Homo sapiens: one gene and its partner. The protein of the gene in region 1 purifies or fractionates together with the protein of each later gene. This does not show direct contact. Each region holds a gene or a part of one and is shown in the gene's direction. Other genes may lie near its edges.

What was found.
Region 2: the proteins of SULT4A1 (region 1) and DPH1 purify together in Homo sapiens (affinity purification with mass spectrometry, with the first as the bait; one large-scale study listed by BioGRID). This does not show direct contact.

What each region holds. Positions count from the first base shown.
Region 1 is NC_000022.11:43,824,299-43,828,104, reverse strand, and holds the end of SULT4A1 (sulfotransferase 4A1), read left to right. Parts: intron 1-464; coding exon of another isoform or gene 465-505; exon of another isoform or gene 506-591; intron 592-1,991; coding exon 1,992-2,104; 3' UTR 2,105-3,596; downstream 3,597-3,806. UniProt on the Homo sapiens protein: Atypical sulfotransferase family member with very low affinity for 3'-phospho-5'-adenylyl sulfate (PAPS) and very low catalytic activity towards L-triiodothyronine, thyroxine, estrone, p-nitrophenol, 2-naphthylamine, and 2-beta-naphthol.
Region 2 is NC_000017.11:2,032,926-2,036,731, forward strand, and holds part of DPH1 (2-(3-amino-3-carboxypropyl)histidine synthase subunit 1), read left to right. Parts: intron 1-579; coding exon 580-732; intron 733-853; coding exon 854-917; intron 918-3,044; coding exon 3,045-3,166; intron 3,167-3,603; coding exon 3,604-3,761; intron 3,762-3,806. UniProt on the Homo sapiens protein: Catalyzes the first step of diphthamide biosynthesis, a post-translational modification of histidine which occurs in elongation factor 2.

The sequences.
Region 1 (3,806 bases):
CAGCTCAGCTCTGCTGCCCTCTGGGAACGCAACATAGGTCAGGCCTTCAGCTTCTGCGGCTTTTTGTTCTTCTCTGAAAAGGGGCTGATCACGGCTAAGGGCGGTTTGAAGGTCAAGTGCAAAGTGCCGTCTCTTATAAAGGCAGAGCAGTGGACTCCTCAGGAGGAAGTGAACTGAACCACAGTCCCTCTCGACTTCTTTCCTGGCTGCATTTTCATAAATATTTGTTATTTAACATTTATTTGCTCTTTTTTAGTTTTGCTTTTGCTGTGTTTTGTTATCCTTGGATGTGACCTTCTCCAAAATACCCCTTTTGGTTCACGTGTGTGTGTGTGTGTGTGTGTGTGTGGTGAAGCAGCGTCGAGAACATACTGTGTGCCCATATGCTCCTTCCCTTGGGTTTGCTTTATCATGGTTTACCTTGGTTTTGCTTTATTTCAGTTCTTTGATTTGTTTTCTTTTAGCACATTGCGTCTTTGCTCGGAAGATCTTCTTGAGTTGGTGAGAATGCAGGGCCGAGTAGCCAGCTGCATTGCTTAGATTTGATTCATGTCACAGCATAAATTGTCTTGATTCCAAATCCTAAACCAGGTGGGTGACTCCTCTGACGAGCTCTCAGCTGTCTCAGCTGAGAAAAATAATCATGGAAAAATAGTTTGGTTGCTCTAGCAGCTTCTAATTTTGCCCCTTAGGTATCATTAAAGGGTTACAAGAATAATTTTTCTTGTTTTTCTCTCCAACACTGATAATTTTTTGTTACCAAAGAGAAAGTCCGTGTTACGTTGGGTATTTTAGCTCAGCATTTGCAGGGTTGCAGTTTGAAAAACCTGAGGTCCTGCCTGGACAAGGACCGCTGTTAATAACGGAGCTAGTGAAGGACATTTGCTGGAGACAGAGCTCTGATCTCAGAGAGCTGACAATGGAAAGAATTCTAAACGAGCAGTTCTTCAAAAGCAGGGAGGCAGTACTCGGGTGATGTGCTCACAGCTCCCATAACTGGGAAGTTTGGAATCCCCGCCCCAGACATCTTCACGGTCACCGTTGCTATTGGACTAGACCAACCTAAGATTTTATATTAACAAAGACAATGGGAGCAACAACTTCTCTTGTCATGTTGAGCTGTCTTTCGTTTTTCCAAAGCCTTCATAAACCAGCGTAGACCGGTGCCTGCAGTTTATCCCACAGCTCAGCCCTCCCTTGTGGCTGCCAGGAAGAGGTCTGGGTTTCTGACTAAGCCTGGGCTAGAGCAGCTGGGGGCTGTGCCCAGACTCATTTTATTGTTGACTCAGGGAATTCTCACTGCAGTGCATGTTTTGCATCTAGTCTGTAAAGCTAGCTAATGCTGCGACTATTTGATTCACTTTAAATTCCTCCCCAGGGTTTGCCAGGGCAGGCTTCTTGAAATCTGCATCTTTGGCCCAGTCAGGAGGGCTTCCTACTTAGTGTAAAATTTTCTGCACTTTGAATGATTTTTTTTTCCTTTTCAAATTCTCCCGAAGCCAATGACGCCTTGGTGGCACTGTTGAGCTGTGAGTGGATAATGGCGTGGGAAGGGCCAGGGCTGCCTGTGATGCCCAGAGCAGTGCACTCCCGCGGCAGATCATACTCGCTCCTGGGATGTTTATTAAACACCTGCCACGTGCCAGGTGCCGTTCTAGGTGCTGGGGACCCAGCACTGAACAGGAGTAGAGTCTCCCTGGTGGGCCCCAGCGGGGGGTGTGGAATGGCACCAGGAGGTGGTTGTGGCTCACTGTGCCACAGCCTCAGAGGGAAGCTGGTTCAGGTCATGTTCTGCCGCATCCAGTAGTTTCACAAATGTTAGGGGACCACCTGGTCTGTAGCTCAGACGGCCCTTCCTGCCCCCATAGGCCAAGTTCAAAGGGATCCAGGAATAGATCTGGAATGTTCCAGATCCATTTCCAAGGCTTCCTTTAGTTCAGTAGCTGGCCGGACAGCAAGTGGCCCCAGCAGTTCTCTTGTTTGCGTTTCAGGAAGAGTTGGGCTGTGGAAGGACATCTTCACCGTCTCCATGAATGAGAAGTTTGACTTGGTGTATAAACAGAAGATGGGAAAGTGTGACCTCACGTTTGACTTTTATTTATAATAACAGAAACAACAACCTGCATGCTCACAATACCCAGACAGTCTACTAGCCAAAAGTCCTGTATGCATTCATTTATTCCTTGCTGGACAAACTCTGGAAGCAGCGTGTGAAACAGCGGGGGAAGGGAAGAGCGGCGTGAGCGGAGGGAGTGTGATGATTCCCAACCGAAAGCAGCTGTCTCGCCTTTAGAACGTGCAGCCTCTCCATGTCTGATTACAAACAGTCTCCACATTGCAGTTCCAATGGCCTGGACCGTAAGGATAAAGCCTGTAATATATGCAACTAGAATGTCTGCCTTTTCAACCCCGTATTATTGTATTTTATAGAGCTTTTCACTGGAAATCTACATAAATGTCAGTAAACCAAATAAAAGTTCATTTCCAAGGGGAATCAGGAGCGAGCCACACCCGAATGGTAGAAAGATCTCAGGGTTAACTCTTTATTTTTGTAGTTTTATTATCTAAGGCACAGCCATTCTGTTCTCACTTGGTTCTGAGATAGTGGTGAGAACAGAGGATGAGTTGGGTCTGTTGGGGGGAATCTGGACACTTGTTTATTCTGACGGAGTTCACTTCTTCAGAACCTTCCTGAAATGAGCAGAAATTGTTCACTAGGTCTTCAGAATGGACGTCCTTCTGCCAGAGACTTCCAGCGGGCGGCTCCAAAGGCCCAATGCAGAGGAGCCCGCGGAGCATGTGCTGAGGGAAGTCTGCCTGGTGAGGCTGGCAGGTGGGAGTCTAATGCAGTCAGGAGCATTTGCATGCAGTGGGTGGAGAGTCGGCCACCAAAGGACCGAGTTGCGCTCGGAATTTGAGCTGAATTCCACAGCCTTACTTTGTTTCCTGAAGTGATAGCCTACTAATGCTGGCAAGCAGATGCTTAATAGTAAATTTCTAAAATCCCCGGGTCTTTATCATTCAGTTTGTTCTGTGCACCTGAGGCGCTCAGCCGTGGGAGGACCATTTTGCGAGTGTAGCCCTGTTTCACTCGGATCAGGTTGGCACGGCCGCCTGCGTGTCTGTCCACCTCATCCCTCCGTGTATCTGAGGGAGTAAAGGTGAGGTCTTTATTGCTTCACTGCCTAATTTTCTCACCCACATTCGCTGAAGCGATGGAGAGTCGGGGGCCAGTAGCCAGCCAACCCCGTGGGGACCGGGGTTGTCTGTCATTTATGTGGCTGGAAAGCACCCAAAGTGGTGGTCAGGAGGGTCGCTGCTGTGGAAGGGGTCTCCGTTCTTGGTGCTGTATTTGAAACGGGTGTAGAGAGAAGCTTGTGTTTTTGTTTGTAATGGGGAGAAGCGTGGCCAGGCAGGTGGCACGTGGCATCGCATGGTGGGCTCGGCAGCACCTTGCCTGTGTTTCTGTGAGGGAGGCTGCTTTCTGTGAAATTTCATTTATATTTTTCTATTTTTAGTACTGTATGGATGTTACTGAGCACTACACATGATCCTTCTGTGCTTGCTTGCATCTTTAATAAAGACATGTTCCCGGCGTTGCGTCGAGCGTTTCTGCTTGTGGGGGTAGAGGGGTCCCTGCAGCGGTGCTGTCGGTGCTTGGGACAATATGACTGTGGGCCCCGTTGACACCCCATTCCCTGGGGTTGACAGCAGAGGGAAACAGGCCCGTGTTGGGCTTTGATGAAGCAGAATTCAGACTTTCCAGGGGTTCACTTCTCCCCATTATTTCACTCAAATTCAGACTT
Region 2 (3,806 bases), on another chromosome or scaffold:
ATTTCCCCGTGTTAGCCAGGATGGTCTCGATCTCCTGATCTCGTGATCCGCCCGCCTCAGCCTCCCAAAGTGCTGGGATTACAGGCGTGAGCCACTGCGCCCGGCTGCAGAGGGTTTTTAAAGGCTGGGCTTCTGGGGATCTTTAAAGTGAATTAAGGGCTGGGGAATTTCTGGAACTTTCTTACCTATTTTCTGGCTTCAGTCTGTCTGAGGTCTTACATGACAGCAATTAGTTGGCATTTTTCACCTGGTGGGGGGGTGGGTGTCCTGGTTTCTGAAAAACAACTTAGGGATATATGTCAAGGTGTTATGTGTAGTTTCTATAGGGAACCAGGCATCTCGTGACTCTGACTTGGGTGACTGTTGTTTATTATCTTCTTGTTTAGCAAGTTATTTAATTCCCTAATTGCTGGTTGTAGGGCTAGCTAAGATGCCTGGGATTTTTCTTGAGATGACTCAAAATTTTTATTTCTATGCTTGAGCGGGGGCACCGGCAGGCCCTGAAAAGGGATCCCTATTCCATCTCAATCTGGCTTCAGCCAAAGACAGACACCAACTCAGGCCTTATATCCATTCTAGGTCGGGCCCCTCGGGGCCGCGTGGCCAATCAGATCCCCCCTGAGATCCTGAAGAACCCTCAGCTGCAGGCAGCAATCCGGGTCCTGCCTTCCAACTACAACTTTGAGATCCCCAAGACCATCTGGAGGATCCAACAAGCCCAGGCCAAGAAGGGTGAGCCTGTGATCATTGAGCTGGGGTTGGGGTGGAGAGGTTGCCTGGCCCAGATGGGACAGTGTCCCCCTTGCAGCCCCTTCCTAGCCCTCCACCTCTCATGTCTCTGCTCGTCTTGCAGTGGCCTTGCAAATGCCGGAAGGCCTCCTCCTCTTTGCCTGTACCATTGTGGATATCTTGGAAAGGTGAGGCTTGGGGCACTGGAGAGGAGGGTGAGCCAGGCTTCCCCCACCCCCTATGCTCATTACCCGGGTGGGTAAAGCCCTGGTGGCGGGCATTTTTTCCTTCTGAACCTCCACCTTCCCCCTTTCCCTCCCACAACCATACACACACTCAGGGAAAACCCAAAACAAATCTCCCAGCTTGCTGAGAGCCCTGCTTGTCCCTGCAAATCCCCCCTCCCCTAAACATTTGGGACAGAGAAAGAAATCAATCCCAGTGTCTTCAAAGCTAGACCCAGAGCAGGTGGTAGGACCTGGGGAGGACCCTAAGAATTCTCCAAGCTGCCCCTGAAATGCGCTGAGTGATCAGTGGGAGGTCTGCCGGTCGGGGGCGGTGGGGGGCACCTGTTCCTCGGGCACATTTGGGGAAGTAGGGCAAGGATGGGTTTGGAGTGGGAGGTGCCTGGGAGAAGGTATTCAGTTCCTCTACATCCTACCCCTGTCACTCTAAGTTTCTGCAATACAATGAGCCATCCTTGGTGGGGAGGGTGAGAGCTCAGCCATCTGGAACCAGCACAGGAACAGGGGAGGGGAACGAAGAAAGGGGAGGTCATCTCATGCTGGGAACCTCCCACTCCCCTGCTGCCCCATCGCCCTCCCCTGCTCCTCCCTCCCCCTCCCCTTCTCCCCCATCCCCCTCCCCTGCTCCCCCATCCCCTGCTGCCCCATCCCCCTCCCCTGCTGCCACCCTCCCTCCCCTGCTCCCCCAAACCTCTCTTCTCCCCCCTTCCCCTCCCCTGCTCCCCCTCTCTCCCCTCCCCTTCCCCCTCCCCTGCTCCCCCTCCCCTCCCCTGCTCCCCATCCCCCTCCCCAGTTTCCCCATCCCCTCCCCTGCTGCCCCATTCCCCTCCCCTACTCCCCCTTCCCCCTCCCCTGCTCCCCCCTCCCCTGCTGCCCCCTCCCCTCCTCCCCCACTCCCCTGCTGCCCCATCCCCCTCCCCTGCTGCTGCCCCATCCCCCTCCCCTGCTGCTGCCCTCCCTCCCCTGCTGCCCCATCTTGTTGCCACAGACTCACTTCCCTGCTCCCACCGTCTTGCCCCTTGGGGATGCTCTCTGGGGCTCAGGCCAATTTGCATACATTTTAATCTATAAAAAATTAAGTGCTGTGGCTGACTTAGACGCCTGGGCTGCATTCTAAGGAGGTGAATAATCTGCTTCTGGGCACAGCCTGATTTGGGGAAGGGGGTGGAGGAGGGGGTGACTAGCAGGAGCTCAACTCTTCCACTGCCACACCCCCAGGGGAAGGATGGGGGGACCCCAGTCACTGAGCCAGGCTCCACGCCCCAAGTGTGAGTCTCTTTCAAGGAAGAGGGGGTTCTCCTCCATTCCTAGGGTGAGTTCAGGGGTACAAGGTCTTCCCCACCCACCCCCTCCCCCAGTGATTCAGGCCTGGCAGCAGTTCCCACGGCAGTGTTCTGGCCAGAGCCTCCTCTTCCTGATGCAGGAGGCGTGTAGGTGGTGCCATGTGCTATGGGGGAGCTGTGCCTGGGTCCCCCCATCCTGGGCACCAAGGGCCCTGCCTGCGGTGGGGAGGTAGTGGGGGTCCGGACGAGAGGGCCCTGCCTGTGGTGGGGAGGTAGTGGGGGTCCGGGTGAGGGGGCCCTGCCTGTGGTGGGGAGGGGGTGGGGGCCCTGCCTGTGGTGGGGAGGGAGTGGGGGTCCCGGCAAGAGGGAGGCTGTGTGTATTCATACAGCCACGCCCATGCCCACCACAGCACTCAGCGCGGGAGTGAGGACCTTTGGGTGTGTGTGCGTGCTCACGGCTCTGGGTGGGTGAGTCAGGGCATGGGGCGTCTGTGTTTTGACCCCACGTGTGCCGGAGTGAGGGTTGGGGTCCCTCCTGCAGCCTGAGCCTGGGTAGAGGAATGAGGGTCCTCACGCAGCAACAGTTCCAGGAGCGGCTGCCAGGCTGGGGCAGGCGGCAGCTGTGCCCCTCCTAATCTTTGTTGGCAGAAGTGGCAGCTGCCATCCCGAGGAACTGGGAGAGGTAGGGAGAGAGGAGCTGGGCCCTGAGACACCCTCCCAGGGTTGGGTCTCTCCTACCTCAGTCCCTGTGTCCCTGTCCCACCGTTCCCCGCCCCTGTGCCCGCAGGTTCACGGAGGCCGAAGTGATGGTGATGGGTGACGTGACCTACGGGGCTTGCTGTGTGGATGACTTCACAGCGAGGGCCCTGGGAGCTGACTTCTTGGTGCACTACGGCCACAGTTGCCTGAGTATGGTGGGGCCAGGACACCTGGACGGTGGCGGGGCTGGCAGGGAGGCAGGCTGCACATTCATCTTCCCCATGGCAGTGCCTTCTTGTCCTGCTTGGAGACACAAGGTCCCTCCTGGTTTCTGGGGTGGCCTCTGCCTTCCCGCTCTGCAGGTAGATCTTTCCTTTGGATTTGGTTGCCTTGGCAACGGTGCTCTGTCCCAGATGCAGGTGTTTGAAAGGCTGTTGGTTGTAGAGCAGGCTGGGCCCCGGCCGGGTGACAGAGAAGTCTGATTGAGAAGGAGCTTCTAGGGGATCTGTGACCCCCCTCTTCTCCTACCCTGTCCTTTTACCCCCAGGCTGAAGCCACTGCGCCTGGCTGCTCAGAGACCTGAGCCTGGCCGGGCCCTCTGCTGCTCCTGCCTTCCCAAACAGCCCCTGAACTCCTCCCTCCCACAGTTCCCATGGACACCTCGGCCCAAGACTTCCGGGTGCTGTACGTCTTTGTGGACATCCGGATAGACACTACACACCTCCTGGACTCTCTCCGCCTCACCTTTCCCCCAGCCACTGCCCTTGCCCTGGTCAGCACCATTCAGTTTGTGTCGACCTTGCAGGTGGGTGGAACGAGGATCCTCGGCCTCCTGCAGGGTGGACAGCGG